Linked DNA regions of Homo sapiens: all the other regions are linked to region 1. The links come from fine-mapping of genetic effects on gene expression. A gene starts in region 1. Each other region holds a variant in brackets. All regions are shown on one strand. Distances are between the middles of the regions. Region 1 holds the start of NECTIN3 (nectin cell adhesion molecule 3). Region 2 overlaps LOC151760 (putative uncharacterized protein LOC151760). Region 3 has its middle 110 kb from the start of NECTIN3. Region 4 overlaps LOC105374039 (a long non-coding RNA gene).

Evidence for each region. PIP is the estimated chance that this variant, and not a neighbour inherited with it, causes the effect. A credible set is the group of variants that fine-mapping cannot tell apart.
Region 2: its variant is the best candidate, but not a certain one, in a credible set for the expression of NECTIN3 in whole blood (INTERVAL, PIP 0.51).
Region 3: its variant is the best candidate, but not a certain one, in a credible set for the expression of NECTIN3 in fibroblasts (GTEx, PIP 0.63).
Region 4: its variant is the best candidate, but not a certain one, in a credible set for the expression of NECTIN3 in B cells (Schmiedel 2018, PIP 0.75).

The regions. Positions count from the first base shown.
Region 1 is chr3:111,067,306-111,075,452 of GRCh38, forward strand. It overlaps NECTIN3 (nectin cell adhesion molecule 3), which reads left to right and starts at 4,511. Exons shown (of 6, transcript NM_015480.3): 1 at 4,511-4,872. The coding sequence starts at 4,713. It overlaps NECTIN3-AS1 (NECTIN3 antisense RNA 1), which reads right to left and starts at 2,654. Exons shown (of 4, transcript NR_045114.1): 1 at 2,485-2,654; 2 at 1,959-2,166. It overlaps LOC151760 (putative uncharacterized protein LOC151760), which reads right to left and starts at 4,461. Exons shown (of 4, transcript XR_007096272.1): 1 at 4,187-4,461; 2 at 1,959-2,166. RefSeq lists a silencer at 4,239-4,338.
Region 2 is chr3:111,013,227-111,021,373 of GRCh38, forward strand. The region is part of intron 2 of LOC151760 (putative uncharacterized protein LOC151760); the gene reads right to left. Among named protein-coding and RNA genes, the nearest start is that of NECTIN3-AS1, 53 kb to the right of the region's middle. The variant C/T (reference allele first, on the strand shown) is at 3,351.
Region 3 is chr3:111,175,094-111,183,093 of GRCh38, forward strand. It overlaps a transcript of NECTIN3 not described here. Among named protein-coding and RNA genes, the nearest start is that of NECTIN3, 110 kb to the left of the region's middle. The variant C/T (reference allele first, on the strand shown) is at 4,731.
Region 4 is chr3:111,525,897-111,534,043 of GRCh38, forward strand. The region is part of intron 2 of LOC105374039 (a long non-coding RNA gene); the gene reads left to right. Among named protein-coding and RNA genes, the nearest start is that of CD96, 12 kb to the right of the region's middle. The variant C/T (reference allele first, on the strand shown) is at 4,259.

The sequences.
Region 1 (8,147 bases):
TAATCATCCAGTTTGGAATCTATATGGCAGACATTATTCTAGGTACTTGGGGTTTTTGTTTTGTTTTGTTCTGGTTTTGGTTTTTTTTGGGGGACAGGGTCTTTCTCCAGCTGCCTAGGCTAGAGTACAGGGATGCAATCTTGGCTCACTGCAGCCTCGACCTCCTGGGCTCAGCTGATTCTCGTACCTCAGCCTTCAAAGTAGCTGGGACTACAAGAGCACATCACTACACCCGGCTAATTTTTTTTTTTTTGTATTTATAGGAGAAAGGAGGTTTTGCTATTGATATGGTTTGGCTGTGTACCCACCCAAATCTCATCTTTAATTGTAGCTCCCACAATTCCCACGTGTTGTGGAAGGGACCTAGTGGAAGGTGATCGAATCATGGGGGCAGGTCTTTCCTGTGCTGTTCTCCTGATAGTGAATAAGTCTCATGAGATCTGATGGTTTTATAAAGGGGAGTTTTCCTGGACATGTTCTCTTGCCTGCCACCACTTTGCTCCTCCTTGCCTTCTTCCATGATTAAGGCCTCCCAAGCCATGTGGAACTGTGAGTCAATTAAACCTCTTTCCTTTATAAATTACACAATCTCAAGTATGTCGTTATTAGCAGCATGAGAACAGACTAACACAGCCATGTTGCCAGGCTCGTCTTGAACTCCTGGACCCAAGCAATCTGCCAGCCTTGGCCTCCCAAAGTGGTGGGATTTCAGGCAGGAGGCACTGTGCCTGGCCTACTTGAGTTTTAACAGTGAAAATATAGATACTTGCTTGCCCTTGTGGACTGTTCATTCTAGTGAAAGGGAACAGACAGTAAATTAGAGACATGTCAGATGGTAAGGGCAATGGAGAAAATAAAGCAAGTTAAGGGCATAGGGATTAGGGTGGGGGAAGCTCTTTCATATGATGTGGTCCTGGAGAGCCTCAATGATAAAGTTAAATTTTATCAAAGATTCAAAGGAAATAGGAGGGAGAAAGTCATATGAGCATACAGGGAAGATCTGTTCAGTAAGAAAGACTTGCATTTAATAAGAGTAAGGTTGGTGAACGTTTTGCAAGTGGATGGACTTTTCTGCGATTTTGCAGTTTGTTTTTTATTATTTGCATAATTCTCTTTACAAAAACTGTGATCCTAACTGGATAACATAAGCTTATTATCAAATATAGTACAAAGTTCAAATATTCTACAAAATATCATTCATCTCTTTTACTAAAGGAAAAGCTATGCGTCCTCACACAGCAGGTTATAGAATTTGCTGATGTTAAGAAGAATTAGCTGAAGTATATAATGTCTTACCTCTCCTGTAAAATACCTCCTTTGTTTCAGAGTCAGCTATGAAATTCTAATAATAGTCTCAAACTTTTCACTTGGATTATTTGAGTAAATGTAAAATGCCCAGCACTGTACATAATTACTTCTTTGTTAAGATGTCAACCTTTGTTTTTTAGTTAAGAGTTAATGAACCTTGATAATTGGCAAACAATCTTTGAGCCGAAAGTAGGATGGACACCATCAGTACTCTTAACCCAAAACAATGAAACTATTGTTGGCATTAGGATTACATTGCTTTCTGTTCAGATAATTTTTTTCTGAAAAAATGCATGTATACTTTGTTATTCAATGGTGTCAGAAATATTAATAAGTTAGCTATAATTAAGTATTCCTTAAACAGTTTGTTATTCAAACAATAAATGTGAACTTATGTATAAAGTTAGAAGACTAAAAATGGCATAGAACGCACTAATACTCTCATGCTAAAGGTTTTAAAAAAATTAATAGTATTTCTGCCCTTGAAAAACATGAGTTGTATATGTAATGTAAAATCTTTTTCTGTGGCCAGTAAAAATTTCCAACAGGAAAGCTTGGGGTGAGTATGTCTAAAATTCACTCATCTGAGGAGAATGTAATTTAAGATTGGGCACTTTTATTATAGAAAGTAGAAATTTGAGTTATCTTACTTTTTAACTTAAAGAATCATCTTGAGAGATCAATGGTGTCCACTGGAAGGCAAGAACTTGGTTCTGGCAGGAAAACCACCACTGGCTGGTAGTATTTGCAGAGCACTTAACCTCTGTGCCTAGGTTCTTGTAGCTGTCAAGTAGATAATAGTAATTGCTACCTTCCGTGGGAAGTGAGCTTGTGCTTTGACATCTTTAGTTGAAGATGCTGTATAAACACAAATTATTATTATTAGAATATAATACATATATGCACATAAAACACCAGCATGGTGCTCTTTTAATGCTTATATAACATCTATAAATAATGCTCTTCCATGCTCTCTCTTCACTTTAGGTCAGAGAATATCATAGCAGACCACTATTCAATTTCTGTAAGTATGGAGGAAATATATTTGTTAAAGCTCCATGTCATCTTTTTGAGACGAACTTAACCTGCTAATTCCTTATGGTCTCTGTAGCAATTGCCCGATGGCCCCTACCCAAGTTAAGCCTTTGGTATTTTTTGAAATGTTGGCTAAATTACTTTTCTTGGAGATGTGGAGCCATCAGGGAAAACCTGGAAGAATGAAATTGGCTAGTGATATTAAAATTTTGGTTGTTTAACATTTAACTGAGTCTCAACAACGTGTTAAAGTGCTATCTAAACAGATAATTAGCTAGTGGCTGCGCAGTGAGCTGTCTAAATTTAGCAGTGAAATTAGGTTTAGGGAATGCGAATATAGAAAAAGAAATTTTCTCAAGGGAAACGGTGGTGTCAGCACAGCTGAGGAATGTCACAATAGCTACATTTTGTCAATTATGATCATCATCAGGGGATCTCCCGGAGCGATGCAGGACAAGGTTTATTCATAAGTGCATCTTGAGAATAGGTGATAGAAAGCCTTGGCTGCAGGAGACAAGCTTACAGGGGACGACAGAGGCAGACAGGCACAGGGAGGGAGGGAAGAGGAAAGGGCTGGAGGGAAAAAGGCACTAGACCGAGCGCTGGGAGACTGGAAGGGAGGCAGAAGTTAAGAAAGAAAAAAGAGGTGGGCAGGGTGTAGAATGGCTTGTAGCCTTGGAGGTTAGTAAAGCCTTGTAATCCAGCGGGCGGAAGGTGGGAAGACCCTATTGACTGAAAGCCGAGGACAGCGTGGTCTTGGCCGCAAGCATGCATTAGTTTAGCTGCGACAGGCTAACTTCTGGGCGGCTGATCCTTGTTCAGCTTTCCTGTTACTGGAACACATTTATGGCTATCTCGTGGAGATGACAGGACCTACATAAAATTAATAGTGTCAGGCCTGAGGACTGGTGTCCTCTGCCTTCAATTCACCCCCTACGCTGGACAGTCCAAATTGTCCACCCTCCTACTCCCCCCGCGGAACCAATGTGGCAGTGGCTCCAAGGTCAAGCTGCCGGTACTGTGCGAGGCGGGAGGATGGAGAGGGCAGGGCGGAGAGCCACCTGGGATGAGCGAGGGTCATGGTGGACCACAGACGCTCTTCTTATACGGGCAAATGTTTAATACTTCCCGAGGTCGCCTCTCTGCCATCAAACGAAAACAGGCAAGAAAATAAAACTACACATACGAACATGCAAAGGAAACAAAACCAAAGAAAAACACCAACGCACTCGTTGGGGGAAATCCATGGCCTCCTGTTGCCAGTCGCCCGGCGCGGAAAGTGGACAGCCCAGCGGCCAGTGAGAAGCAAGAGCAAGAAAGCAAACCTTCTGAAGACCCCTCTCCTCGCCCAGCTCCGCCGACCATTCTACCAAGCTGCCCTCCCAGAAAAAAGAGCAGGAAAAATGCCTGTGCAAACGTGCCTTGGCGAGCGGGGAATAAGTGGGCTGGGAAGAAGGGAAGGATTCGGAGAGCACAGCTGTCCCGGGGAACAGGAAGGAGGAGAAAGTCTCTCCCTCCCTTCAGTGCCCCGCGCCCCAGCGAGGAGGAAGATTACTAGTCCAGCAGGCTGCGTCCAGCTTCCTACACAGGAACCTTTAGCATGGGCAACGGAAGGGCAGCCCCCTCCTGCCTTCCCCTCCCCACCCCACCCCCTCGTCCCAGGTCCCCGCCACAGGGAGAGCGCCGCCCGGGAGAGGAGAAGGCCGAGCGTGATTGTCCCGCAGCCCTCGCCTCAGTCGGCGCCGGGGCCCCCGTGGACCCGCGAGGGGTGGAGTGGGCGAGACCATTGGAAAGGCAGGGAAGGGGGGAAACCAGGCAGGAACGAGGGGCGGGGCCGACTAACCTATTCCAGATTTTCCTGTCCCTTTTAAATCTCTGCTGTGGGAGAAACCCCGTTATCAAAGTGGATGAAAAGAATATTTTTTTTTGAAAGGGGAGGAGCATGTGTAGGAGGGCGGGGTGGGAGGAGACAGGGCTTGCGCCCGGGGATCAGACGGGAGGTGGAGTTGCGCGGGGAGGGCGGGCGAGTCGGGCGCCCGCTCTGAGAGTCGGTTTCTTTTCCCCCTCTTGCGTGGGGCGGGGTGGTGCGTTCCGAGTTCCCAGGAGTTCGACGCGGGCGGGTGCCGAGGGGAGGGGAGTGGCGGCGGCGGCGGGCGGCTCCCGCTTCAGCCTCGGCAGTGGCGTCGGCGACGGCGGTGTCGAGGCAGCCGCCAGCGTTCGGCCAAGTGTCAGCCGGCAGCGACGGCGCTAGAGCTGGGAGCTGGGGACGCGCGCGCCGGACCTTCCACAGCCTCCGCCCAGAGCCTGAGGCGCCGGGGCCGGGGGAGCCGGGGGGCGGGCGGGCGAGCGGGCCGGGGGGAGGGTGGGGGATGGCGCGGACCCTGCGGCCGTCCCCGCTGTGTCCTGGAGGCGGCAAAGCACAACTTTCCTCCGCTTCTCTCCTCGGAGCCGGGCTCCTGCTGCAGCCCCCGACGCCACCTCCGCTGCTGCTGCTGCTCTTCCCGCTGCTGCTCTTCTCCAGGCTCTGTGGTAGGTGAACCTCGGCGGCCGGCGTGGGCTGAGGGAGCCGCCACTGAGGGTGCGGGCGCCGCGGCCGGCTCTGCCAGCCGTTCTCTGGAGCAGCGAGGCGGTTGGTTGTGCGAGCGAGTGCCGAGGACTTTGGCTGGAAACTTTTCGCCGCGCCCGGGGCGAGGCCCTGGAAGGGCCAGGCCAGCGAATGCTGAGCCGGCGGCCCGCTGCCCTCCCCCGCGGCCGCGCGGGTCGCCGTGCGGATGGCCGAGGGTTGGCGATGGTGCTTCGTGCGCCGAACTCCGGGTTTGCTCCGGGGACCGTTACTTCCTCGCTCATTCTCTGGGAACCCTCGTAGGTTAAGGTGCCGGGATGCACGTTTGCCGCTTTTTTTCCCGGTGAAACTTGAGCTGTGAGCCCAGAAACCCTAGGGACCGGAGCCCGATGGAATGAAGCCTCCGGGTCCACTTCTCATGGCCTTCCACCCTGGAGAAGGCACCATTTTAGCCCACCCAGCCGCAGAATCCCCTACAGCTAGTTTTCTTCTGTCTTGTGCCCACTCCCCCGGCTCTGCCCTGACAGCTTCTGGAGCTCTCTAGATTGACCCTCGTCCCTGCCCTCCAGCTTGTGGGACGTCTCTCACACTGCCCGTGCTTATTTTACCAAACCGCAGGAACAAGATTTACGTGTTAAATACCTGATTTCATGGACTGTGTGCCCCGGCTGTTCTAACCAAAACAGTCACGCGCCTGTTTCCCATCTCTTGACCCTCGTGTTATGTTACTGTTTTCCTGTCATATTTGGGAGTTAGTCTCTGAGTTTTCTTCCCAGGTATGCCAGACTAGAAGCCTGCTTATTAAGGACTGTGCTAAAAAAAAAAAAAAAAAAAAAGTCTGCCTCATGCAAGAGAAATGGACTTAAGTGGTAATTAATGGGAGGCAGCGATTTGGGAAAATAAGGACACCAGTCTTTGGTGGGAGGAGGAGTATCAGAACACTGCGAGTAGTTATTTATTTGAGGGCTCTTGGTAAGAAAAGTAGAGGGGCAGAACTTAAGCTTGGTCAAAGATTGGTTTTCAGTATTTCATAAAACCGTAAACTGAAGTTTTACTAGTATTTATTAAAAGGAGAGATGTGTGCACATTTCTTGAATAGTGTGATTTAGAAGGAGGAGAATCCTGTTACATGGTAGGTGAGTCAGGGTAGTTGGTTATGAGGGAAGCAAAGTTTGCATGATGGGATTGAGTGTCTCTTCTGGGCTGAGAATTTCCACTGACAGTTTACCACCACGTTTCCAGCACTGTAATGAAATCTGATTTACACAGAGTATAGTATGGTAAATGGAATGTTATTAATTGTACGCTGTTTCTGTATGCCGACTCCGCAGATACTTGGTTCCAAGACAAAGTTCTTAATGCTATACCTTTTTAAATTGATGCCAGAGTCTAGATTGAATTTGTGTGCTGTTCTATTCCATGAAGGAGAATTGGGGATGTTGCTTACAGTTGAGTGAGAGGACAGTTGGAGGGGACCTTACCAGTTTACTATCCTGACTTCGTTTATGTTAAGGACTGAGAGAATATTTATACCTCCACAGAGGCAGATCTAGTTAGGCAAAGCTCTGTGGAAGACTGAAGCCAGGTAATATGCATAGCTGATGCAGGAATTATTTACATGATAATTTCTTAGTGGTTGTGAAAATGAATTGTTGATTACTTTTTGAAGGAACACATTGGTTTTCACATGGAAGAAGAAAACAGTTTTAAAAAATCTCAATGTAGCATTGGAAGGACTTGATTTTTAATTCAGAGCTTAAAAACTTAAGCAGTGTAGGCAAATGGACTGTGTTTTAGAGCAGGTGTAGTGTTTAGAGTCAACTCTTCTTGTTGTAGAGGTAGACACTGGTTTTGTATTCCTGTGTGCTACTCATTTAAACAGCTTCCTTTTTTGGCTTATAGTGTTATAACACCCTAATTTGTGAACCTTTATGACGAGTTTTTTCCATCAACCTTTATTTTGGAATTAAGTCTTTGAATAGGGCACAGATGTTGTGACTTATGGAAGCTTAGTGGTATGGAAGCAAAATTTTCTTCAAGTAAGCTGTTAGTCTAACAAGTTGTTGATTTAACTACTGTTTTAGTTAATAGAGTTATAATGATGTTCATAGTACTGCTTACAAGGTTTGGCATGTAATTAATATTTGCGTGGAGCCAGTTTTAGAGTTGAAAAGATTTTTAAGCTTTAAAAATATGACTGTAGCTGATGATTTGTTGATGAGAATGCTTTACTTGTTTTATGACATATAGATTTTTCCTTTTGCTGCTATTTTTGATATTTTGATATGTTTGATATATAGCGTGGCCTTAACTTTATCGTGTTAATTTAACTGTTAAAAATATCCATCAAAACTGGTGGACCTGATATTCTGAAGGCTATAAAAATGTTTATATCAGACTTGCTGGCCGTTTGTTTTGGGGGTGTGCATTATCTTATTTGGAGAACTGAACTTTTAAAATGAGAGTTTTACAGGTTGTCAAATTGCCAGATTTTTTTTTTGTTTTTAAGCCTAAGAGATTCCTAGGTATAAGTGTCAAGGGGACTGGGCTTACGTCATCATCTGACTTGATAAACGTCATTTAATTATGAAATTCGAAGTTTCTTTATGATGGCAATAATCAATTCATAGATGATTAGATTTATCTCACTTTTACTTCCCACCGTTTTTTTTTCAGGGGACATAGAGAATATTATCATGGGTATGGTAATGATGAATAACAAGATAGACTGACCTTTGTAAGGTCCCATTTGGCTCTGAGATTCTATGCCTCTTTCCATTTTCAGCAAGGCTTCATCTTAAGATGAATGTTTAAAAGAGCACAGAAAAGAAGATCTGATATGATATGGAACTTTTAAAAGCACTTTGACTACTTGATAGGCACTTGGGGACATAACACACGCATAAGACAGAGTCCTGGCTTCAAGATGCTTGTAACTTTGGGTTCGACCTAAAGGAAACATGATTGTAGAACAGTTTGGTGTTTGTGAGGTATTTTGATTTGCCCGGAAATGGGACACCTAACCCATTAGGTAAAGACTTATGAATGTGCAATGAAAAAAACAGTCATTTTTAAAACATCATTTGGGTCAGATCTTATTGAGATGTCTTCTTCCTTCCCTGTCCTTCCCTCCCTTCCTCTCTTTCTCTTTCTCTCTCTAGCTGTAAATCATTGGCAGGTTATTTAACCTTGGAAACTTGAAGTTTCTCTTGTTTTATAAAGAGATAACATTACTACCTTG
Region 2 (8,147 bases), 54 kb before region 1:
GAGAATCAATTCCCACCCTCCTCACCCTACCCTTAACTAGTGACTGGTTGTTGGAGTTAGTGGGAGAATTTTTGAGGCACATGTTCTACATTGGCTCCAGTGTTCTCCGGCAGGATGAAGCTCCTTCTATCCTCAGTGGTAACTTGCATGATGATGCACTCTATTGGCTGCCTTCCCTTCTCTATCTCTCTTCCTCACTTCTCTACTGGTTTTTCCTGAAATCAGGTCTCAAGTAAACCACTTGGACTTGAATCCTTTTCTCAGGGTCTGTTTCTGGAGAAACTCAATATAATATAGATTCATAAGCCAAAATTTGAGAGACATTTCTAATACCCTTGACAACTTGAAAAATAAATTTCTCCAGTATAGTGGGTCCTTTCCTCCTCAGTCTTCTAATTCAAAGGCTTAGAGTTTGTATTTTTGTTTATCTTTTAGTATGTGGAACACAAAATCAAACTTCATTTTTTCCCTTTATTTTACCCCCTGGTCTGAATGAACAGGGTTTGAGTCTCCCAAGGTTCCTCCCCACTCTATAATTCAGTGAATATTCTGGTCTCTCTCTACAAGAAATGAAAAAGTTGCCCTATACCTAGTACCACTAAACATAATAAAATTTTCTATGGATTTCTGAATTCTGTATGGAGGTGTTTGTTTTTGTTAAATATGACCCTCAAATTACAAACAACCTACACAATATATTTCTGAACCTTTGTTCTTGAAAACAAATACAGTATGTTCCATTGAATCTGTAAATGCAACTTCAACATTTCTTTCCAGATTTGGGTAAGAAGTCGGAAATGATATAAAGGTATAGGGGGTGTGGGTTTTTTTTTGAGATGAAAATATGTTTTATACTTAATTTTTTTAAGTTTTAAATCTTTATTTTAGAATATTTAACACTAAGGAAGTTGATTTTTAAAAAAATTATATATGCTCAAGCACTACTTCTTACTCCTGATGTGAAAGGGAAAGATTAGAGGATGTTGACAGGGTCTTGGTTAGACATCCCATTTGGGGAGTTGCCTTGGAAGAAAAAATAATAATATGATGCTAAAACTTAAAATATTAATTGCTACTTGCTGCTTCTTCCCTCCAATGATTCATGGTCTTTTGGTTAAAAGTAACTGCAATCACTAATAAAAAGAGCCCATTTCTTGCCATGTTTCAGACCTAATAAATGGAGGATTAATAAAACCAAACTAGGGCTGCTAAGAAATATTCTAGATCATCTCCTAACATAAGTACTTGATGTAAACATCAACCACTCTAGGTACAAACCTAACTACTAGGCCTTTTGACTGATCTGTCTGTTCTGCCTATCTACCTGGTTCTTCCATTCTTACCCTCCTTTCTACCTATCCCACTACACTGTACCAATTCCTTGTCCTGATGCAAAGTTCACACATTCATATATTCACTCTTTGAACAATAATTAGTTGATAACCTATTATGGAATATGGTGATCTACAATTCAAGTAAAAACATGGTCTGCAGAATGGCAGCACCAACGTCACCTGAAAGTTTGTTAGAGGTACAAATTTCTAGTCCCCACCTCACACCAACTGAATCAGAATCTCTGAAGGTGGGACCCAGGAATTTTTGTAACTAGCTGCCCATGGAATTCCTATGTAACTAAGGTCTGAGAAACATGTCTGGATCTAGATTGGGGCCCAAGAATTTGCATTTCTAATAAGCTTTCAGGAAATGTCGATGCTGCTAGTCCAGGGACCCCACTTTGAGAACCACCAATCTAGAAATTTAAGTTCTTTTCCCTGTTACTCAACAACAGCCTATATCTAAATCTCCCCAAATTATTTTTTATCCTCATTCTCTACTTTTCCAAACTAAACACAAGTTTGTCGGAAAGTTTGAGGCCCAACTTGTGAACTCAAAGCCTTTCAAATTTGGTAGCAATACACAACAACTGCCACTGTACCCTGTTAGTATTATCTCCCTCATTATCTTCATTTTTGCTTCACATGCTTTATCAGAAAACCTCACAGCATGTTGAATTGCGTACAACTTTGAGTTAGATTGTACAGGCCTAAGCTATAAATTTACATTAACTAGGTAATTTTGAACAAGTCACTTAAGATTTCTGAAGTTCATTTCCTTATCTGCACAATGAAAATGACATGGGTTGGAAGAGATTATGTACAGTCATCCATGTGGAGGATTGTTAGTTCCAGAGTAATCCCCATATAACCAAATCCATGCATACTTAAATCCTACAGTTGACTCCCTACAACCCGTGTATATGAAAAGTCAGTCCTCCATATACTTGGGTTGCATCTGAGAATACTGTATTTTCAGTCTGCATTTGGTTAGACAAAAAGAACACATACAAGCATGTCCACACAGCTCAAACCCATATTGTTCAAAAGTCAGCTCTATTTGAAATAAGCTATCAACAAGGTCTGACTTACAGTAGTTGCTCAATAAATATGATTTAAATTTTTATATCACAACCTTTTTCTCTTTCTTTAATATCATCTGATACCAGGTAATGATATGAGGATGATTTTTGTTACTTTTAAAATTTGATTTAACTTTACCCTCTATATTTTATTCCTCCTTCATTTTGGTGACCTCTAAGAAGTATAAAATACATTTCTTTTGATTTAAAAAATATCTGAAGTTTTAAAAACTACAACAGACTGTAATAGAATGTCACAGTGGTTGTTCTAATGTTCAGTTTTCTATATTTTCTTGTCATTTGATGCCAAATAAAAGTCATAGCTAAATATACCTTAAAATTTCTCATTAGAAAAAATAGCTTCAACATTGACTAAGCCATTTATCCAAGTACCTGAAATCCCTTTATAGGCATTAGCTAATTAAGTTTTAAGACACCTTCATCAGTAAAGTAAGAATTAGAACACCTAGACTAAAACCACATAGGCTAGTTTAAGAAATAGGGGCTTATACTATATCAATCAAAGTAAACTGAACAGATTACAGCACAGCCAGTCTGTATATTCTCATCATTTTGATAACTGAAAAGAGGTTTGAAAACTTTTGAACTCTGAGAATCATTTGAAAAGAATTTTTAAAATCATGTTTATATAAAAGCGATGCAATATGTATGCTTATAAAAATCAAATAGTACTGAAAAAGTTATAATGAATATATCAACCATTTTTCTCCATATCTCTCCAACACCAGATTCCATTCCCTAAAGATAATCTCTTTTTAATACAAGCTGCTGCATTTATAAATAATATGTTTATATTGCTATTCTTTTTTTAGTGACAGTGTCTTGCTCTGTTATTCAGGCTGGAATGCAGTGACACCACCACAGCTCCCTACAGCCTCAACCTCCCAGGCTCAAGCGATTCTCACACCTCAGC[C/T]TCCCAAGCAACTGAGAACACAGCCAAGCCACCAAGCCTGGCTAATTTTTTTATTTTTTGCAGAGATCAAGTCCCACTGTGTTGTCTAGGCTGATCTCCAAAGCCTAGGCTCAAACCTTCCTCCCAACACATCCTCTCAAGTGCTGGGGTTACAGGCGTGAGCCATCACGTGCAGCCTATATTGCTATTCTTGATTTACCAATGTTAGACACTATTTATGTCTTTCTCTAATATGTGAGGATTTAGCTGTTACAACACAGCCACAACCTCTCTCCAATTCCTTCCAATATATTTATATAATTTTTAGTTAAGTAACCTAACAGTGTTTATATTTCGAAGATACATAAATATCACTGCAGTCAAGTAGTTGGACCCTCACCCAAGCAGTTTTACTATAGTTATTTCTTACACAGTTTTTCGGTTTGTTTCTGGAATTCCTAATTATTTCACTTTACTCTTATATATTATTTCTTAAAGTCATTCTTACTTTTTTTTTTCTGAAGTCTCATCATATCATGTATTTATAAAATGAGTCCTGTCTCTCCCCACCCCTAATCACAGAAAGTTTCTATCTCAACTTGCTGCTTCATTTGGGGCTGCTGCTCTCCAAACCTGCTGCATAGGTATCCTGTGACTATCCTTGACTACTCTTCTGGCTTGCAGCAACAATTTCCTAGATTTCATGTCTTCCTATCTCCTGATTTTCTACCTGTATTGCTGGAGGCAAATATTCTGATTCTTTGCTGACTGAAGATGTTTTTCTTTTCTCCACCCTCACACTTGATACTTTGTATAAGTATAGAATTCCAGGTAGAAAATCATTTTCCCGTCTGAATTTTAAAAACAATAGATTACCATTTAACAAATGGTGCTGGGAAAACTGGCTTGCCATATGTAGAAAGCTGAAACTGGATCCCTTCCTTACACCTTATACAAAAATTAATTCAAGATGGATTAAAGACTTAAATGTTAGACCTACAACCCTAAAAACCCTAGAAGAAAACCTAGGCAATACCATTCAGAACATAGGCATGGGCAAGGACTTCATGTCTAAAACACCAAAGGCAATGGCAACAAAAGCCAAAATTGACAAATGGGATCTAATTAAACTATAGAGCTTCTGCACAGCAGAAGAAACCACCATCAGAGTGAACAGGCAACCTACAGAACGAGAGAAAATTTTTGCAATCTACTCATCTGGCAAAGGGCTAATATCCAGAATCTACAATGAACTCAAACAAATTTACAAGAAAAAAACAACCCCATCAAAAAGTGGGTGAAGGATATGAACAGACGCTTCTCAAAAGAAGACATTTATGCAGCCAACAGACACATAAAAAAATGCTCATCATCACTGGCCATCAGAGAAATGCAAATCAGAACCATAATGAGGTACCATCTCACACCAGTTAGAATGGTGATCATTAAAAAGTCAGGAAACAACAGGTGCTGGAGAGGATATGGAGAAATAGGAACACTTTTACACTGTTGGTGGGACTGTAAACTAGTTCAACCATTGTGGAAGTCAGTGTGGCGATTCCTCAGGGATTTAGAACTAGAAATACCATTTGACCCAGCCATCCCATTACTGGGTATATACCCGAAGGAATATAAATCATGCTGCTATAAAGACACATGCACACGTATGTTTATTGCAGCGCTAATCACAATAGCAGACTTGGAACCAACCCAAATGTCCAACAGTGATAGACTGGATAAAGAAAATGTGGCACATATACACCATGGAATACTACGCAGCCATAAAAAATGATGAGTTCACGTTCTTTGTAGGAACGTGGATGAAGCTGGAAACCATCATTCTCAACACAAAGAACGTGGATGAAGCTGGAAACCATCATTCTCAACAAACTATCGCAAGGACAAAATACCAAACACCGCATGTTCTCACTCATAGGTGGGAATTGAACAAGGAGAACACTTGGACACAGGAAAGGGAACATCACACACCGGGGCCTGTTGTGGGGTGGGGGGACGGGGGAGGGATAGCATTAGGAGATACACCTAATGTAAATGACGAGTTAATGGGTACAGCACACCAACATGGCACATGTATACACATGTAACAAACCTGCACGTTGTACACATGTACCCTAGAACTTAAAGTATAATAAAACATATAGGGGAGGAGCCAAGATGGCCGAATAGGAACAGCTCCGGTCTACAGCTCCCAGCGTGAGCGACGCAGAAGACGGGTGATTTCTGCATTTCCATCTGAGGTACCGGGTTCATCTCACTAGGGAGTGCCAGACAGTGGGCGCAGGCCAGTGGGTGCGCGCACCGTGCGCGAGCCGAAGCAGGGCGAGGCATTGCCTCACCTGGGAAGCGCAAGGGGTCAGGGAGTTCCCTTTCCGAGTCAAAGAAAGGGGTGACGGACGCACCTGGAAAATCGAGTCACTCCCACCCGAATATTGCGCTTTTCAGACTGGCTTAAAAAACGGCGCACCACGGGACTATATCCCACACCTGGCTCGGAGGGTCCTACGCCCACGGAGTCTCGCTGATTGCTAGCACAGCAGTCTGAGATCAAACTGCAAGGCGGCAGCGAGGCTGGGGGACGGGCGCCCGCCATTGCCCAGGCTTGCTTAGGTAAACGAAGCAGCCAGGAAGCTCCAACTGGGTGGAGCCCACCACAGCTCAAGGAGGCCTGCCTGCCTCTGTAGGCTCCACCTCTGGGGGCAGGGCACAGACAAACAAAAAGACAGCAGGAACCTCTGCAGACTTAAATGTCCCTGTCTGACAGCTTTGAAGAGAGCAGTGGTTCTCCCAGTACGCAGCTGGAGATCTGAGAATGGGCAGACCGCCTCCTCAAGTGGGTCCCTGACCCCTGACCCCCGAGCAGCCTAACTCAGAGGCACCCCCCAGCAGGGGCACACTGACACCTCACATGGCAGGGTATTCCAACAGACATGCAGCTGAGGGTCCTGTCTGTTAGAAGGAAAACTAACAAACAGAAAGGACATCCACACCAAAAACCCATCTGTACATCACCATCATCAAAGACCAAAAGTAGATAAAACCACAAAGATGGGGAAAAAACAGAACAGAAAAACTGGAAACTCTAAAATGCAGAGCACCTCTCCTCCTCCAAAGGAATGCAGTTCCTCACCAGCAACGGAACAAAGCTGGATGGAGAATGACTTTGACGAGCTGAGAGAAGAAGGCTTCAGACGATCAAATTACTCTGAGCTACGGGAGGACATTCAAACCAAAGGCAAAGAAGTTGAAAACTTTGAAAAAAATTTAGAAGAATGTATAACTAGAATAACCAATACAGAGAAGTGCTTAAAGGAGCTCATGGAGCTGAAAACCAAGGCTCGAGAACTACGTGAAGAATGCAGAAGCCTCAGGAGCCGATGCGATCAACTGGAAGAAAGGGTATCAGCAATGGAAGATGAAATGAATGAAATGAAGCGAGAAGGGAAGTTTAGAGAAAAAAGAATAAAAAGAAATGAGCAAAGCCTCCAAGAAATATGGGACTATGTGAAAAGACCAAAGCTACGTCTGATTGGTGTACCTGAAAGTGATGCGGAGAATGGAACCAAGTTGGAAAACACTCTGCAGGATATTATCCAGGAGAACTTCCCCAATCTAGCAAGGCAGGCCAACATTCAGATTCAGGAAATACAGAGAACGCCACAAAGATATTCCTCGAGAAGAGCAACTCCAAGACACATAATTGTCAGATTCACCAAAGTTGAAATGAAGGAAAAAATGTTAAGGGCAGCCAGAAAGAAAGGTCGGGTTACCCTCAAAGGGAAGCCCATCAGACTAACAGCGGATCTCTCGGCAGAAACCCTACAAGCCAGAAGAGAGTGGGGGCCAATATTCAACATTCTTAAAGAAAAGAATTTTCAACCCAGAATTTCATATCCAGCCAAACTAAGCTTCATAAGTGAAGGAGAAATAAAATACTTTACAGACAAGCAAATGCTGAGAGATTTTGTCACCACCAGGCCTGCCCTAAAAGAGCTCCTGAAGGAAGCGCTAAACATGGAAACGAACAACCGGTACCAGCCGCTGCAAAATCATGCCAAAATGTAAAGACCATCGAGACTAGGAAGAAACTGCATCAACTAACGAGCAAAATCACCAGCTAACATCAGAATGACAGGATCAAATTCACACATAACAATATTAACTTTAAATGTAAATGGACTAAATGCTCCAATTAAAAGACACAGACTGGCAAGTTGGATAAAGAGTCAAGACCCATCAGTGTGCTGTATTCAGGAAACCCATCTCACGTGCAGAGACACACATAGGCTCAAAATAAAAGGATGGAGGAAGATCTACCAAGCAAATGGAAAACTAAAAAAGGCAGGGGTTGCAATCCTAGTCTCTGATAAAACAGACTTTAAACCAACAAAGATCAAAAGAGACAAAGAAGGCCATTACATAATGGTAAAGGGATCAATTCAACAAGAGGAGCTAACTATCCTAAATATATATGCACCCAATACAGGAGCACCCAGATTCATAAAGCAAGTCCTGAGTGACCTACAAAGAGACTTAGACTCCCAAACATTAATAATGGGAGACTTTAACACCCCACTGTCAACATTAGACAGATCAATGAGACAGAAAGTCAACAAGGATACACAGGAATTGAACTCAGCTCTGCACCAAGCGGACATAATAGACATCTACAGAACTCTCCACCCCAAATCAACAGAATATACATTTTTTTCAGCACCATACCACACCTATTCCAAAATTGACCACATACTTGGAAGTAAAGCTCTCCTCAGCAAATGTAAAAGAACAGAAATTATAACA
Region 3 (8,000 bases), 110 kb after region 1:
TCCTCTTCCACCACCTCCAGCCAAACTCCTCTCAGTGTTCAAATGTTGCTCCTCTTCTCTATTTCTCTGTCACATTGTTCCGCCATCCATCTGCTTGTCCCCTCCTCTCCTTGCCTGCTGGTCAGCTTTTGGAGCCTGGGGTTTTGGTTTATATGGGTACAGGATAGTGGGCACGGTGGGCCAAAAGGCAACTTCTTGGGCATGAAAACAGGAATGTTGTCCCCATTTAGGGCCGCTGGTCTCCAGGCTTGAGGGTGGGACCTTTGCCAGGCAACCACCCTCTTCTACCCAGTGTCTTCTGTTTGTATCAGTACCATGGGAGATAAAGACAAGTAAAAGCATAGAAAGGCCTCCCACTTGTGTTCAAATTGCCTCGCTTTGTTGTTTAACTGTTTGAATGACAAGCCACATGAAACAAGATTATAAATTCCTGGAGGACAGGGCCCATACATTCTTTCACAAGTAGATATTACTTAGGATGAGATTATTTCAGAACATCAAATTATTAATTTTCAGTCCATTCACCTCTGTAGAGCTCAGTTCTCATAGACACAGAACCACAATTCTCATCAGATTTCAAACTAGATATTGCAAACATGATGACATTTCTCACTGTGTTTTAACTAACTTCCTGGGACCGAGGGAAGAGCTGCTTCTGCTTCAGTAACAGCCTCTGATGGCTCCCAAGGAGGTCTCCATAAGTATTACCAATTCCAGCCAGGGTCACCCAGAGGGTGGGGCCATCCAATTTGTTCAGGGAGTAGGTAAAATAATGTTTTTAACTGTTAAATGTTTTTTTGCATTGGTATTTTAAAAAATTTATTTCCTCTACTATTTTTCCAAAAGTCTACATTTAGTTATTTGTTACAGTGAAAATGTTCCTATCTTAACAGAGTGATTCCTTTCACTATCAGGTCAAGAAATGTCATCCTGCAATGACATTTACCAATTCCACACTAAGTAGATGGCCTGTTATTTGTAGTTATTAGCCTGTTTTAGGGGCCAGAAGAAAATACCCAAACTCTATTTGGCCATATGAATTACGTGTACATGAAGAGAAAATAGTTTTCACTGTTCTTGCCTCATGGAGTAGCATCTAAGTCAGTATCACTATGTAAAAATTAAATAGTGACACTGTAGGGTGCATTGAAAACAAGAAAAATCCTTGACTCATTTTATTAATCATGCAACCTACCTTCACTGGAAGGATTCTCCAGCTTTTGTATTATCTGCTTCACTTTCCTTTTAAAGTCACTGGTGCTGTGAACTTTCATTCTAATCACTGATGCTCTCTGGCTCTCCTAAACTCATAAACTGAGTTCTAGCTCAAGCTGCCTCTGTGCAGGTCACTTAAAACTTTAGTGTCTTTGTGGGGGGAAATGCCAAATTGAGACTACAGTTACTTCTCAATTCAAATAAAACTGCATTCTTTGGGTTTTATATTTAAAAAATTGGTGTTCCTGAAAGTTAATATTAACTTTCCATAGCAGACAGTTTCTCTTTGTATTTTACCTTCTTAACCATTATTAGGTTATTTTCCTTCAGAAGGAGAAACTATATATGTTACCTTTATTTTCTTTTTTTTTTCTTCTGGGAAAATGTTGAAAAATATCATTCAATTAAATTTAAGATCCCCCCAAAAATACATGTAAAAATATGTTCAAGAGATAACTTAGAAGGCTTCTAGAAAGTAACCATTAGGTAAATGGATAGAGACCCTTTTGTATTTCATTTTCTACATTTCTATTACACCCTCAGTAGGAAAAATAGATTGTTGGTAAGGGAAATTATTTCTGTATTGTCTCATCTTTCAATAGGAAGGAATATAAGGGAACTGGCATTCTTCACTTAGTATATAGCCTGTTGTTTTAGGAACTAAAATACATTCCGTATTGAAGATTTTAGGCGGCCTTTTCTGTTTTAATTTTTACTCTTATTTTTGCAAAGAATGGCATAAATTATTAACCACTTAGAAAATCTTAACAGAGTGTCTTTTTCTAGTTCTTTGAGTTAAGGGTCAACAGTTAGCTTTGAAATTACTTATGGTTATTTCAAAAAGACATAAAAATTAAGTTTTTAAAAAGAAGAACTGAGTTAATGTATGAAATAAGGTGGCATTTCTAAGGAGGCCCACATTTATCTATACCCTTACCTTTTTATTCATTTATTATTTAAAAATATTTATCTAATTTTTCTCTAATCGATATTTATTATACATGTAGATAAGGAAGACAGCAAGAAGGAACTTAGATGCTAGATTAAATATGAGATTTGGGAAGGCCCATATTAATGATCTCTAGAGAGGAATTCAATTTTGGTTCTTATTTTAGCATGTAAAATTTTGATCATTACAACATCTAGGCAGTACTGGAATGATTTTTGGCATAGCTTCTCTGAGAACACATCTTTTAAGATGTGTATTTTTTAAGATACTGTGTAGTATGATGATAGGTGATTTTCTCTACTTGATGGCTTTGTGACAATACTGTGCTTGATACAGAAAAGACAGCTACCATCTTTGAGGGTGTTCGGGTGTGTTGATGAAACTAAGGTTTACCTTATGGGAAAATTTGGAGATAAAATGGTATGAGTGGGTAAATAGGTACAGCATTAGGGCATCGCATTGAAAAGCAGAGATGCCCCTTGTGAAAATGACAGCATGGTTTTCTGGTGTTAAAATGTGTAGGCATTTATTAGTTATGGAAAACAGTGCATATGTGCATTTGTACCCCAGAAATGGTTAGGATTTATGATTAAGAGCATCTTGGAATTATATTTGGATATCATTTGCCTGCAAATAATTCATCACCTTTACCATCTATCTGCTTTAATTAGGTACTTTGCTTTGCATATGTATTAAAATTTAGGTAAAGTATCACTTTCTTGTGTATTTTAATATGAGAATTAAGCAAGACCATAAACCAAAATAAGAAATTTCATTAAAATGTGTCGTATCACATTTCGCTTTGAAAAATTAAAACCTAGAATGTATACTCAGTAGAAGTAATGAAATTTATTTACCAGTGATAACAAGAAACACTGCCTTCCTTTTGGTTAAGACAGCATTTTCAACAACTAAGCTGTTACAACTCTGTGGTTGACTTCAGAAAAATTCAGTGCTACCTTGTGGGATAAAATATCCAATATTCTATCTTGCAAATAAACCTCATGATAGCAGCCTGTATTTGAAAAGTTAGCCATGAGGACTTTCTTTCTGTAGTCATTTCTTCTTTAACTGACTCATTACAATCTATAATATTACAAATTAGGGGACTAGACATTGCATTTTGAGGTACTGCACTATATCACTCTGAGTATAAACAGACACTCAAAAAGAGAGGGGAAATACCCTCCTCATAAATTTTTAAGGCATTATCCTACAACAAATGACCACTGTATGTTCAGCCCTGGGCTGGGGCAGAATGGGAAACTCTCAGAGTCTCATTACTGCTTAAGAAAAGCCTTGCCTTTGTTTTCCTCTAATTGAGGCTGGAGCTCAAGCAGGAGGTGAAGTAACTTAGACTCGTACGGATGACGATAAACCAGAGCATGTGGCAAAGCTCGCCAGTCTTGAGCATCACTGGTCTTTCTCCTCACTTATATGCCATCTGCCCTCTCAAATGTTCATTGTCTTCCCACTTTTTAGCCCCTTTCTGCAAGCAGTTTAAGAGACTGGATATACTCAAGATGGGAAGTTTTATGTGATGGTTTAAGGCACAGACTTTGGAGTTACATAAAGATGAATTTGAATCTTAGCTCTACATACTTGGAACCATTGCTCAATCATTCTAGGCCTCAGTTTCTTCATCTGTGATATGGGGACAGTGATATTGCCTCAAGGGCATAGTGTAAGACTATGAGTATAACCAAAGCATCTTAAACAGTGCTTGTCTTACTATAAATCTTGGCTGTAATAAAACTTGGCTATATAGCTACCTGCTATATGGATAAGGCAGGTAGTAAGGGAAGAATCTTTTGTCAGTCCTTATAAGTTGTAATTGTAGTTTTACCTAAGCTAAGCCTAATGCTGTCTGTTTTAATCATGTTGCCATTATTGAGCCAACTTTCATGTTCTCTTGCCTTCTTTCTTAAATGCTAGAACCTCTCCTCCAGTCTATCTAAGTCCCAAGGATCTAGAACGTCTTTTCACAGCATTCACTCCCTTCCCATGAACCATCTCAGACCTATCCCTGCCCTGTTCTTTGCAAGTAGTAATTCAGACCTCAAGATTTCCAGTCCAGCTGGCACAGGTTTCTCAACAAAGCTAGCACCCAAGATATCTGTGGGGACCTCTGACTAAAAGTGGGAGTCAGTTTCTATGCAATGATAGCTTTTCAGTAAGTGTTTACTGAGCACCTACTCTGATAGCAGCATGTGTGGTTTGGGAGAAATCTGTCATTCTCTTAGTGGGTTAACAGGAAAGGATTTATGGGATGTAATACACAGACAGAAGACATTGGGACAGAGGAACTATAAGCAAATAAATCTCAAGTCTTGGGGAATAAGATCTAGGCAAACTGGCTGGGCGCGGTGGCTCACACCTGTAATCCCAGCACTTTGGGAGGCCGAGATGGGCAGATCACGAGGTCAGGAGATCGAGACCATCCTGGCTAACACGGTGAAACCCCGTCTCTACTAAAAATACAAAAAATTAGCTGAGTGTGGCGGCGGGACCTGTAGTCCAAGCTACTCGGAAGGCTGAGGCAGAAGAATGGTGTGAACCTGGGAGA[C/T]AGCTTGCAGTGAGCCGAGGTCACACCACTGCACTCCAGCCTGGGTGACAGAGCAAGACTCTGTCTCAAAAAAAAAAAAAAAGATCCAGGCAGACTTTACACATTTAACTTGTATAATATGTGATGGCAGTCTGCACTGATCACAACTGATTGTAGATATTAGAGAACTAATAATTAACTTAAAAATTAACAGACAAAATTTCAAATTTAAAAGAAAAAAGTTGATTAATAATACAGCAACCCCATTGACATTCACAGAGAATACTTCATAGAATTTTGAGAAACCCTGCATTACTAAATACCCCTATCTTTTATAAAACTCATATATAAGAGTTGAGAATAAAAGACACCTTGAGAAATGGATATAGCTAAATGATTAGCCTCATATTGAAAACCTTCCAGGTCTTGATTCCAATTTATGTCTCAACAAAATTATAAATTACTACCTGTCATAAACCTTTTAAGCTTACTCATGAATGCTTGGAACCAGCAATGTTAAATCTGTGAATACTAAGGGTCTGCTAAAATAATGAGAGACATTCATATGACTAGCGTACGCATATGTGTAATTATCTTGGAGAACAGTAACAATTATGTATCTCATTAAACAACTGCCTAATTAACGTTGTTGTAAATTTTGCCTGATTAGTGTACAATCTTTATAGTTGCTGATCCTGAAACAAAGTCGACCTCTCTCATAACTATTTAAAAAAGTGAAAGAGAAATCAATCTTTGGTTCACAGTTTTAATAATATTATATTAATTCTTTTAGAGAGGTACTTAATAGATATGAGTGTAATATCCTATATGCCTTGAAGAATCCATATTTTGTGAATTATATGTGGTGGCCAGTTCTTTATGTGTTGCTCCTTTAGTGTGGAGAAATCATCTCTCTAGATTAGGAACTCAGTCATCCAAATAAGCAATTGGATACTTTTTAACGGAGAAACTTCTGCATCAGGGACAGTCTGTTGTAAAGTATTTATTAAGAATTTAATATGTACTTTTTTCGTAGCAGATTCCAGACTATGTCAATGACTTCTCAGTTTACTTAATCTCCCTACCCATGTTTCTCCAAAACGGAGTAATTATAATAAAATGACAAGTTAGAGTTTTTTTTAAAAAAACTTTATTGAGTTGGAGTTTACATAATACCATGCCATATTTTAAGTGTACATTTTCATAGCCTTGCCAAATATGTACATGGATGTAACCATTGCCCCAAGCAAGAACTTTTCCATCACCTGAAAAATTTCTCATGTATACCCTCCACCATCAGTATCACCACTACCACCACCATCATCCCACACTTCCTTTCTCTGGCAACCATTGTTGTGATTTCTGTCACAATATATTAGTTATGCCATTTTAAAAGAACCTCACATGAATGGAATCCCAGTGTGCTCTTTTGCGTCCAATTTCTTTTGCTCAGTATAATGTTTTTAAGATTCACCCATGTTATTGCATGAATAAACTTTGTTTTATTGCTGAGAAGTGTCCTATTTTATGAGTATACTATAATTTTTTATATTCATTCATCTGTTGAGGACCATTTTGGTTTAAAGTTTTGGGATGTTGTGAAGAAAAAAACCTTTTTCCTTTTTTTGTAATGTATTTTTCTGGTTTTAGTATCCAGATGATGTTAATCTCATAAAAGGAGTTTCAAAGTATTCTCTTTTTCTCCATTTGCTGAAATAATTTTTAAGAGCAGTGTTATTCCTTCTTTAAAATGTTTGGTAGAATTTACTAGTGAAATCATCTGGGCCTGGAGTTTCTTTGTGGAAGGATTTTAATTGTGCCTTTCAGTATATTTATTAGTTTCATCTAGGTTGTCAAAGTTAATTGGCATCAGATTTTTCATAATACACTTTTTTAACCTTTTAATTTATATGGGATCAGCAGTAATGTCACCTTTTTCATTTTGATATTGATTTGTGTTTTCTCTTTTTCTTGCTAGGGGTTTTCCCATTTTATTAATATTTTCAAAGAAACAGATTTTGATTTTATTAATTCTCTCCATTGTTTGTGTGTTTGTTTTGCTTGTTTATTGATTTTTCACTCTTTTTTTCTACTTCCTTTGGATTTAATTTGTTCTTTTTTCAGTTTCTTAAGCTTAGATCATTAATTTCAGTCCTTTCTTCTTTTCTAATACAAGCATTTAAAAATACAAAGTTTCCTTTGAGCACTTCTTTGTTTGAAATTATGCAAACTTTGGCTTTTTAAGATATCATTATTCAGTTAAATATTTTCTAGTTTATCTTTTATTTCTTTGCTTAATTAGTTATTTAGAAGTATATTTTACAAACATTTTGAAATTTTCAAATGTTTTAATTATTTATTTTTCGTTAATTTTTTTATGGTTAGAAAATATATCTGTTTCACTTCAATCTTTTAAGTATATTGAGACTTCTTTTAAAACCCAGAGTATAGTCTGTCTTAGTGAATGTTTTTATGTGTACTGAAACTAACGTATGTTACGCTGTTGTTGGATGTGGTGGTTTATAAATGTCACTTAGGTCAAGTTGGTTGATAGTGTTGTTCAAGTCTTATAAATATGTACTGATTTTCCTTTTTCATTTCTATAGTAACTAAGATGGGAATGTTATTTTCTACTACATTTGTGAATATATCCATTTCTCCTTTCAATTCTGTCGGTTATTCATATATTTTTGTAGTTCTCTTATTGGATATGTACACATGTAGGATTGTTATGTCTTCTTGATAAACTGATCCTTTTATCATTTATGAAAGATCCTTTTTGATTTCTGATAATTTTATTTGTCCTGAAGTTACTTTGTCTGATATTACTATAGCTACTCTGGTTTTCAAACTTTTTTTTTTATGATTTGTGTATAGTGTGTGTTTTTCCATCCCTTTGCTTTTAACCAATCTATGTCTTAACATATTTACAATAATTTTCATATTGGTCACATGTAGTTGGGTATTGCCTTGTTACCAATCTGAAAATCCTTACCTTAAATTGCTATGTTTATGTTTATTGCCACTTTTACTTAACTTATTTATTGCTGTGGTTCAGCTTAAGTCCATCATCTTGTTATTTGTCTTCTGTTTGTCCCATTGGATCTTTGTCCTTTTTTTCACTTTTCCTGCCTTCTTTTAAATTAGCTGAGTGATTAAGTATTTTTTAATTTAAATACATTTATTTAGTATTTAGCATACACATTTTTAACTTATCACTATCTACCTTAATATTACATAATACTACTTCATATATATTAGATGAATTTTAATATGCATTTCAATTTTTCC
Region 4 (8,147 bases), 460 kb after region 1:
TAGTAGATACTGGGGCTGATGTTTCTATTATTTCCTCTAATTTATGGCCTTCCTCCTGGCTTAAACATCCCGCTAACATGGGACTAGTAGGTGTTGGAAAAGCTGATGAATTTCACCAGAGCACATTTATCTTGCCTTGCACTGGTGCTGATGGTCAAAAGGGTACAATTCAGCCTTATATCACACCAACCCCCATTAATATTTGGGGTAGAGATTTGCTGGCGCAGTGGGGGGCTGAAATTAATATTCCATGTAACTCTTATAGTGTTCCCAGTCAACATATAATGGAAAACATGGGGTTTGTTCCCAGACTTGGTCTCGGTCCAAGACATGAAGGAATTACTAAACCTCTTCAAGTTACTGTAAAAGAAGACAGGGCTGGTTTAGGTTATCCCTTTTAATGACGGCCACTGCCATGCCTCCTAATCCTGTAACTTTGTAATGGAAATCTGAAACACCTGTTTGGATTCAGCAGTGGCTGCTCTCTAAAGAAAAACTGGAGGCTTTAACTCAATTGGTTTCTGAACAGTTATAAGTTGGAAATGTGGAACCGTCTCTTTTGTCCTGGAATTCTCCTGTGTTTCCAGTAAAAAAAAAAAAAAAAAAAAAAAAAAATTCAGGTGAGCGGAGGATGGTAACTGATTTAAGGGCCATTAATGCTGTAATTAAACCTATGGGACCTGTCCAACCCGGCGTGCCTGCCCCTGCTTTAATACCTAAAAATTGGCCTCTCATAGTGATTGACCTTAAAGACTGTTTCTTTCATATTGTTTTACATAAATCGGATTGTGAAAAATTTGCTTTTACTGTACCATTATCAATAATCAGGAGCCTGCAGCTCATTATGAATAGAAAGTACTTCCTCAGAGACAGGCTGTGGTGGAATGGGCCAATCGCACTTTCAAAACTCCATTGTCCAAACAGTCTGAGCAACAAAAGCATAATGTAACCACTCCCCACTCCCAATTACATTTAGCATTGTTTACTTTAAACTTTCTAAATGTTCCTAAAGACAATACTCTGACTGCAGCTGAACGCCATTATACAGGGAAAAAATTCTCCCTAAATGGAAGCAAGCCAGTATTATGGAAAAACTCCCAGACCAATACCTGGGAACCTGGAACAATTTTAATGTGGGGACGAGGGTATGCTTGTGTTTCACCTGGAGATCATCAATCCCCTGTCTGGGTGCCCACTAGAAGACTTAAACTTCCTGTAAATACTGACAATGAAAACCACAAGGAAAAGACATCTGCGTCAGAGACCGCCATCATACCTGGTGAGATCTGTGCCGACTCTGCAGAAACTGGCATGCCAAATCAAAATGGGTCTGGTTTAATCCTCCCTAATGGCAATGGAGACCCCTCTAACTAATCCCACTTCTCCTAATTCCCTTTCTTTTTCTCCTTATGAACCTAAAAATCTCGCCATTTCTATTAGTCTGAAAATAACAACCCTCTGTTCTTCTCTTCTTCCTTCAGCACTGGACCTTGCTTAAATTGGTTTTATTTAATAATTCTCCTCCTTATACTTTCTGTCTCACCAGTTTCCCCTCAAACTGATTTACCTGCTACACAAAATTATTCTTATTGGGCTTATGTGCCTTTTCCTCCACTTATTCGAACTTTCACCTGGATGGATGCTCCTGAGGAAATCTATACTAACGATCGTGTGTGGATGCCTGGAGCTAGAGATGACCGTTGCCCTGCTCAACCAGGAGAAGAGGGCATTGCATTTAATGTTACTATGGGTTATAAATACCGTCCTCTGTGCCTCGGACATGCACCTGGTTGTATCCATCTAGAAACTCAAGTCTGGTCTGCTTATCTTCCAGAGAGATTAGCTACAAGGGAAGGAGGACATTTGGTCTCCGGCCTCTCCCTTTCTCCTTTAAGACAAATAAAAAGGGGAGTAATAGGAGATACCCCATACTTTCAATATAAACCTGTAGGAAAACCATGTCCTAAAAATTTTGAGGGCCCATCTAAAACTTTAATTTGGGAAGACTGTGTTAACTCACATGCAGCAGTATTAAAAAAAACCCATATGGTTTAGTAATAGGCTGGGCACCAAAGGGCTATTTAAAAAACAATTACTCCTCTGGCAGAAGGGAATGCCTGGAGGGTACTTATTTTATTTCTTATTGGGAGGGCGAGGATCATCATCCTACTTTGCGTAGGAGGTTCAGCTCATTCTTTCCCTTAAAATGGGAATATAAGGGCATTACCCCCCACCTGAGGCCTCATATGATATTCCCCATTCTGAGCCCAGAACACCCAGAACATAGGAAATTGGCTATTGTCATGTCCAGACTCTGAGTATGGGAGGGGGAAACTTTTCTGTCTGTTGTCCCCACTACCGCCCCTTGCATCCGTGATTCTGAACCCCATGGTAAATCCCCTTTGAACCCTTTTCCTCTTTTTGATGCTGATCCTACTTTATGGGACTCCAATTGGCATAATAATAATTCTTCTCAACCCGGGTATACCCCTCCACCTCTTCAGCATCCCTGGGCACCTCAGATTGCTTCTTTACAGCGGAGAACATCGGGCATTGCCACCACCACTCCTCTCCCTCAGTATCGACATAGATTCAAACATTCTGCTTTGTTTACCTCCAACCTGACTATTCCTATACAGAGTTGTGTTAAGCCTCCTTACATGCTGTTAATGGGAAATATCAAAATTTGGACAAACAGTCAAACTGTCCAATGCAATAATTGTCATTTATACACTTGTGTTCATTCCCATTTTGACTTCAGGAAAAGTGTAATGTTGGTTCAAACTCAAGAAGGAATCTAGATACCAGTAACTTTACCCAGACCTTGGGAATCTTCCCCCTCAGTACATTTAATTAATGAAGTGTTACAACGAATTCTCAAAAGATCTAAGAGATTTGTTTTCACTGTAATTGCTGTGATCATGGGCCTAATTACAGTCACTGCACTGGCCACCACTGCCAGAGTGGCATTACACCAATCTATTCAAATGGCTCATTTTGCTAATGATTGGCAAGCCAGTTCCACCCAAATGTGGAATTCTCAACAAGGCATCGATCAAATATTAGCTAATCAAATTAATGATTTAAGACAGTCTGTTATTTGGCTTGGGGATCGGCTTATGAGTCTCGAACATCACATGCAAATGCAGTGCGATTAGAATACTTCTGATTTCTGTATCACACCATATTCCTACAATGAGACTGATCATTCATGGGAAATGGTCAAAGGACACCTTCTGGGTAGGGAAGATAATTTATCCTTGGACATAACTAAACTAAAGAAACAAATTTTTGAAGTCTCTCAAGCTCATTTATCCATTGTGCCTGGAGCTGAGGCGTTAGATCAGGTGGCAGAAAGTCTTTCTGGACTAAATCCCACAATTTGGATTAAGTCTATTGGGGGCTCCACTGTAGTAAATTTTGGGATTAGGTTTCCCTGTTTAATCAGCTTGTTTTTAGTGTGCCAGACCAGTCAAAGAATCCTGTGTCAAAACCAAGAGAACGAACAAGCCTTCATCACCATGGCACATTTATATAAAAAGAAAGGGAGAGAAGTTGCGAGAAGTCAGGGACCCCGAATGGAGGGAACAGCTGGAGCTGCGGCAGAGGAACATAAATTGTGAAGATTTCATGGACATTTATCAGTTCCCAAATAATACTTTTATAATTTCTTACACCTGTTTTACTTTAATCTCTTAATCCTGTTATCTTCGTAAGCTGAGGATGTACATCACCTCAGGACTACTATGATAATTGTGTTAACTGTACAAATTCATGGTAAAACATGTGTATTTGAACAATATGAAATCAGTGCACCTTGAAAAAGAACAGAATAACAGCAATTTTTAGGGAGCAAGGGAAGGCAACCATAAGGTCTGACTACCTGTGGGGTCAGGCAAAAAGAGCCATATTTTTCTTCTTGCAGAGAGCCTATAAACGGACATGCAAGTAGGGAAGATATCGCTAAATTCTTTTCCTAGCAAGGAATATTGATATTAATACCCTGGGAAAGGAATTCATTCCTGGAGGGAGGTCTATAAACGGCCACTCTGGGAATGTCTGTCCTATGTGGTTGAGATAAGGACTGAGATACGCTCTGGTCTCCTGCAGTACCCTCAGGCTTACTAGGATTGGGAAACTCCATCCTGGTAAATTTTTGATCAGACTGGTTCTCTGCTCTCGAACCCTGTTTTCTGTTAAGATGTTTATCAAGACAATATGTGCATCACTGAACATAGACCCTTATCAGAAGTTCTGC[C/T]TTTTGCCCTTTGTCCTGTTTCCTCAGAAGCAAGTGATCTTTGTTCTGCTTTTTGCCCTTTGAAGCATGTGATCTTTGTGACCTCCTCCCTGTTCATACATCCCCTCCCCTTTTGAAATCCTTAATAAAAACCTGCTGGTTTTGAGGCTCAGGTGGGCATCATGGTCCTACCGATATGTGATGTCACCCCCAGCAGCCCAGCTGTAAAATTCCTCTCTTTGTACTCTTTCTCTTTATTTCTCAGCCAGCTGACACTTACGGAAAATAGAAAGAACCTACATTTAAATATTGGGGGCAGGTTCCCCCGATATAGCTTCTGTGTAAGGCCACAGCTAGAAAGTGGCAGAGCCAAGAACCAAAGTATATCTGATATGCCTTGGATCCATGTTCTGTACAAGATTTTCTCTGTGCTGAACAGCCCAAATTAGCACAGGTTATACATGTATATACACATGTGTATATATATGTATATATATATATCTCTCTCTGTAAAGTCTTAGGTGTGATTTTCAAAAATGATTTTGGATTCTGACATGGCAAAACAAGCCCCAGTGGAGAGGATTTTGATGCCTTTCTATCAATTACTTCTACTGGGGGTATAGACAGGAAGTGTCTGGAGGCCAGGCTGGATGCTGCTTAGTCTCTGCAGCTTAGAGGTCAGTACCGAGAAACCACACCTGTTGAAAGGTTGGCTGTTGGTGCAAATCACTGAGGAGGAAGACTCCACACTGCTTGTCTCTACTGTCAAAAGAGAGGATTCAACACTGTGGGAAACTTGTGCCATCCCAGGATTGCTATGGATTCATTACTTTTTTACTTTTAGCACATGTTCCTTTTTCTCTAGCCACACTTAGATATTTTTTCTTAATTTCTGTTCTCAATATCCAGGACTTTTGGCTTTCATTTTCTGTTTAAAAATATATTCTCAAATCTTCTATGATATGATAAGATCTTGATTTAATTTCTCAATACCCACTAACCATCCACTTAGACTTCTGTCCAATTCTTGAAAAATATTACTTCTATTTTGAAAAGGTTTTCATTCTTCTAGTTTTTGTGTTTAACTTCTTACCTCATGTTTCTTATCACAGGGGCAATAGTAAGACAGAGAGCCCACACAATGGAGCATAAAACTTCTTTTGTTTAGGCATTGGGAGGATGGTTCTCCAAAAAGCCTCCTTCTGAGCTACTTAGACTATTGATGGTTCATCTCATGTGGGAGTATGTCTTAAATCAAGGCCCCTGGAAAACAGACACTGTGGTGAAATTTGCCTACAAAAGCTTTATCAAGAAGTGCTCTTGAGAACAACACCTACAAGGGAGTGAGGGAAGCAAGAGGGGATGGAAGGAGAAGCTGCCTTCCAACGAAGTTGCAACAGAAGCCTCAGCCCTTCCCACAAGACAGCTCTAGAGCTGGGATGTCCCTTTAGAGTTATCAAGAATTGAGGCACAAAGCCAGACCTTTGTGCATCCTCCTTCATTATCCACTCATTACCAGTGGGCTGTTCCCAGGGAGAAAGCAAAAACTTAGAGAGGCAGCTTTCTTTAGATTAAGGAAATTCTTGGAAAGTGATGCAGCTATGAGCCATCAGCAGGCAACACTCCCAGCAGCAGAAAAAATTAGTGCTTCAGTCGTGAACGGGGAAATGGGACAGTGCACCACAGTATCCACTACACGCCTCCAGTTTTCTCAGTGTTGATAGCATGCTTAATTTGCTGAAAATATTTTACTTCATTATATCTTTAGTGGGATTAATGGTGACCCCTCAAGATATATGTGAAAAGCACCTGTAAATATGATCTAATTTGGAAAAAGGATTTTTGCAGATGTAATTAAATTAAGGATCTCAAGAAGAGATCCTCCTGAATTAATGGGGTGGGCCTTAAATCCAATGACTAATGTCCTTATAAGAAACAGAAGAGGAGATGACACAGGGAAAGGAGGAGAAGGCCATGAGAAGACTGAAATAACTGGAATGAAGCTCACAGCCCCAGAAGCTGGAAGAGTCAAGGAACAGTTTGTCCCCTAGAGCCTTTGGAGGAAGCATAGCCCTGCTAACACCTTGATTTTGGACCTCTAGTCTTCATATTTGTAAGAAACTGAATTTCTTTGATTTTAAGCCACCAAGTTTGTGGTAGTTTGTGACAGCAGTCCTAGAAAACTAATACAACATCTTATACCATTTAATCGTTACATAAAATTTGTATTCTTAAAACCCTCAATAGGAGGGAGAGTGGCATCGAGATACTTATATCCCTAGGTTTCTAACTGAGGGGTTGCCAAGGCTTGGCTACACATCCATGATGAAGGCCACAGTTCCTGTTGGGAGGCTCTCTCCCTGCAGCTACCCTCTCTCATGGCTGTCTCCCATTTCCCTGCAGTCATAGGAAAGAAAGTGGCTTCCCAATGTTGCTAGCCCCTAAGAACTATGCTACCCCTGGTCTCCCCTAAGCCCTACTACATCTTTATATATAGCCCCTATATTAAACTCTATTCAATTATCACTTTTGAATGTGCCTTCTGTTTTCTACTGAGACTAGACTGGCTTGTCAACTCTGGGGTAATTTAGCTCCCAGGGAGCAATGACTTCAGTCAATGCTAAGCCACTAGTGACAGCAAAAGTTGTATTGCAGCTTTTCTGAGATTTTGTAATATTATGTGCCTATATGTAAGAGACCTGGATTTTATAATACTCATTTTCCCATAGTTATAGCATTAGATCCCTTAACCCTCTGGCTTTCAAAAAAAAGAATCTTGTCATTGGTAGAGATAGGTTTGTCATCCTTATTTTTATCTATCTTAAGTACTGCTATTGAATTCCATCCCTTAGGTAACAAGAATTTCTCTATTTTCTACAGTTGATTTGAGCACTTGGAAAGCCAGTCACAAAATGTCTTAAGATTTATATTCTCTCTGGCAGGGCAAATATGGTCTGCTTTTTTATGTGCTGCTAATTTCCTTCATCTCACATACTCCACAGGAGACCTACGGGTGATAATTGGTGGCAGATCTAATGGGCTCCTTGAACTGCTCATAGCTACTCTGGGCATCCCTCTTCTTGATAACGCTGAGATAATATCATGGGAGAAGAGATATTATTTATCTTTGTCTCCTGTACAGATCAATCCTAGTGCCAGACATTTAAGTGGAGCTCAGTATTTGTTGAGACACTCAGCAAAATTAAGAATATATCTTATTTTTAGAACTCTGACTAGTTTATTTCAATTTTGTGGACCTTGTGAAATGTGTATGCTGTATTATTTCTATTGATGGGAAATGGATTTACTTACTCAAGAGTTTCATCAAAAAATATTCATATAGTGTCTATTATGTGCTCAATACCATTCTCGGGGCTAGAAATATAGCAGTGGAGTAATCAGACAGCCTTAGCATGCATTCTCCACAAAAGCACAGCCTGAGACAAGGGCCTGCCTACAGTTACTTTGGGATGTAATCGCATGGAACAGGAGTGGGGGTGAAAAAGAGTGAAACAGGGAAGGAGGGCAAGTCAATGCAAGGGTGCAATATCAAGCAGCTTACACTATGGTCCACTGTTGTCTGGGTCCCTCTGGGCACTTTCTTAGGATCTGTGTAGAACGCATCTTAGAATCTTTCACCTGAGCAACACAAGCTCCTGTTCCCCATTGATCAAAGGTTGCCCGATGAGGTGTTGACTCCCTGCACTTCCAAGGTCACGCATGTGTATGCATGGATGAGTGGAATGAGGCCTCCACCCCCACCTATCCCCCTTCCCTTGCTGAGGAGGCAGAGATGCCCAGGTCAGAAAGTAAGAGATATTTAGGGCAGCTGAGGAGAGGTGCTTTCAGGCTTACATTTGAGCAGCCTGTTGGACCCATGACAGCTGGAATGAAAAGGTGGGTGTGATAT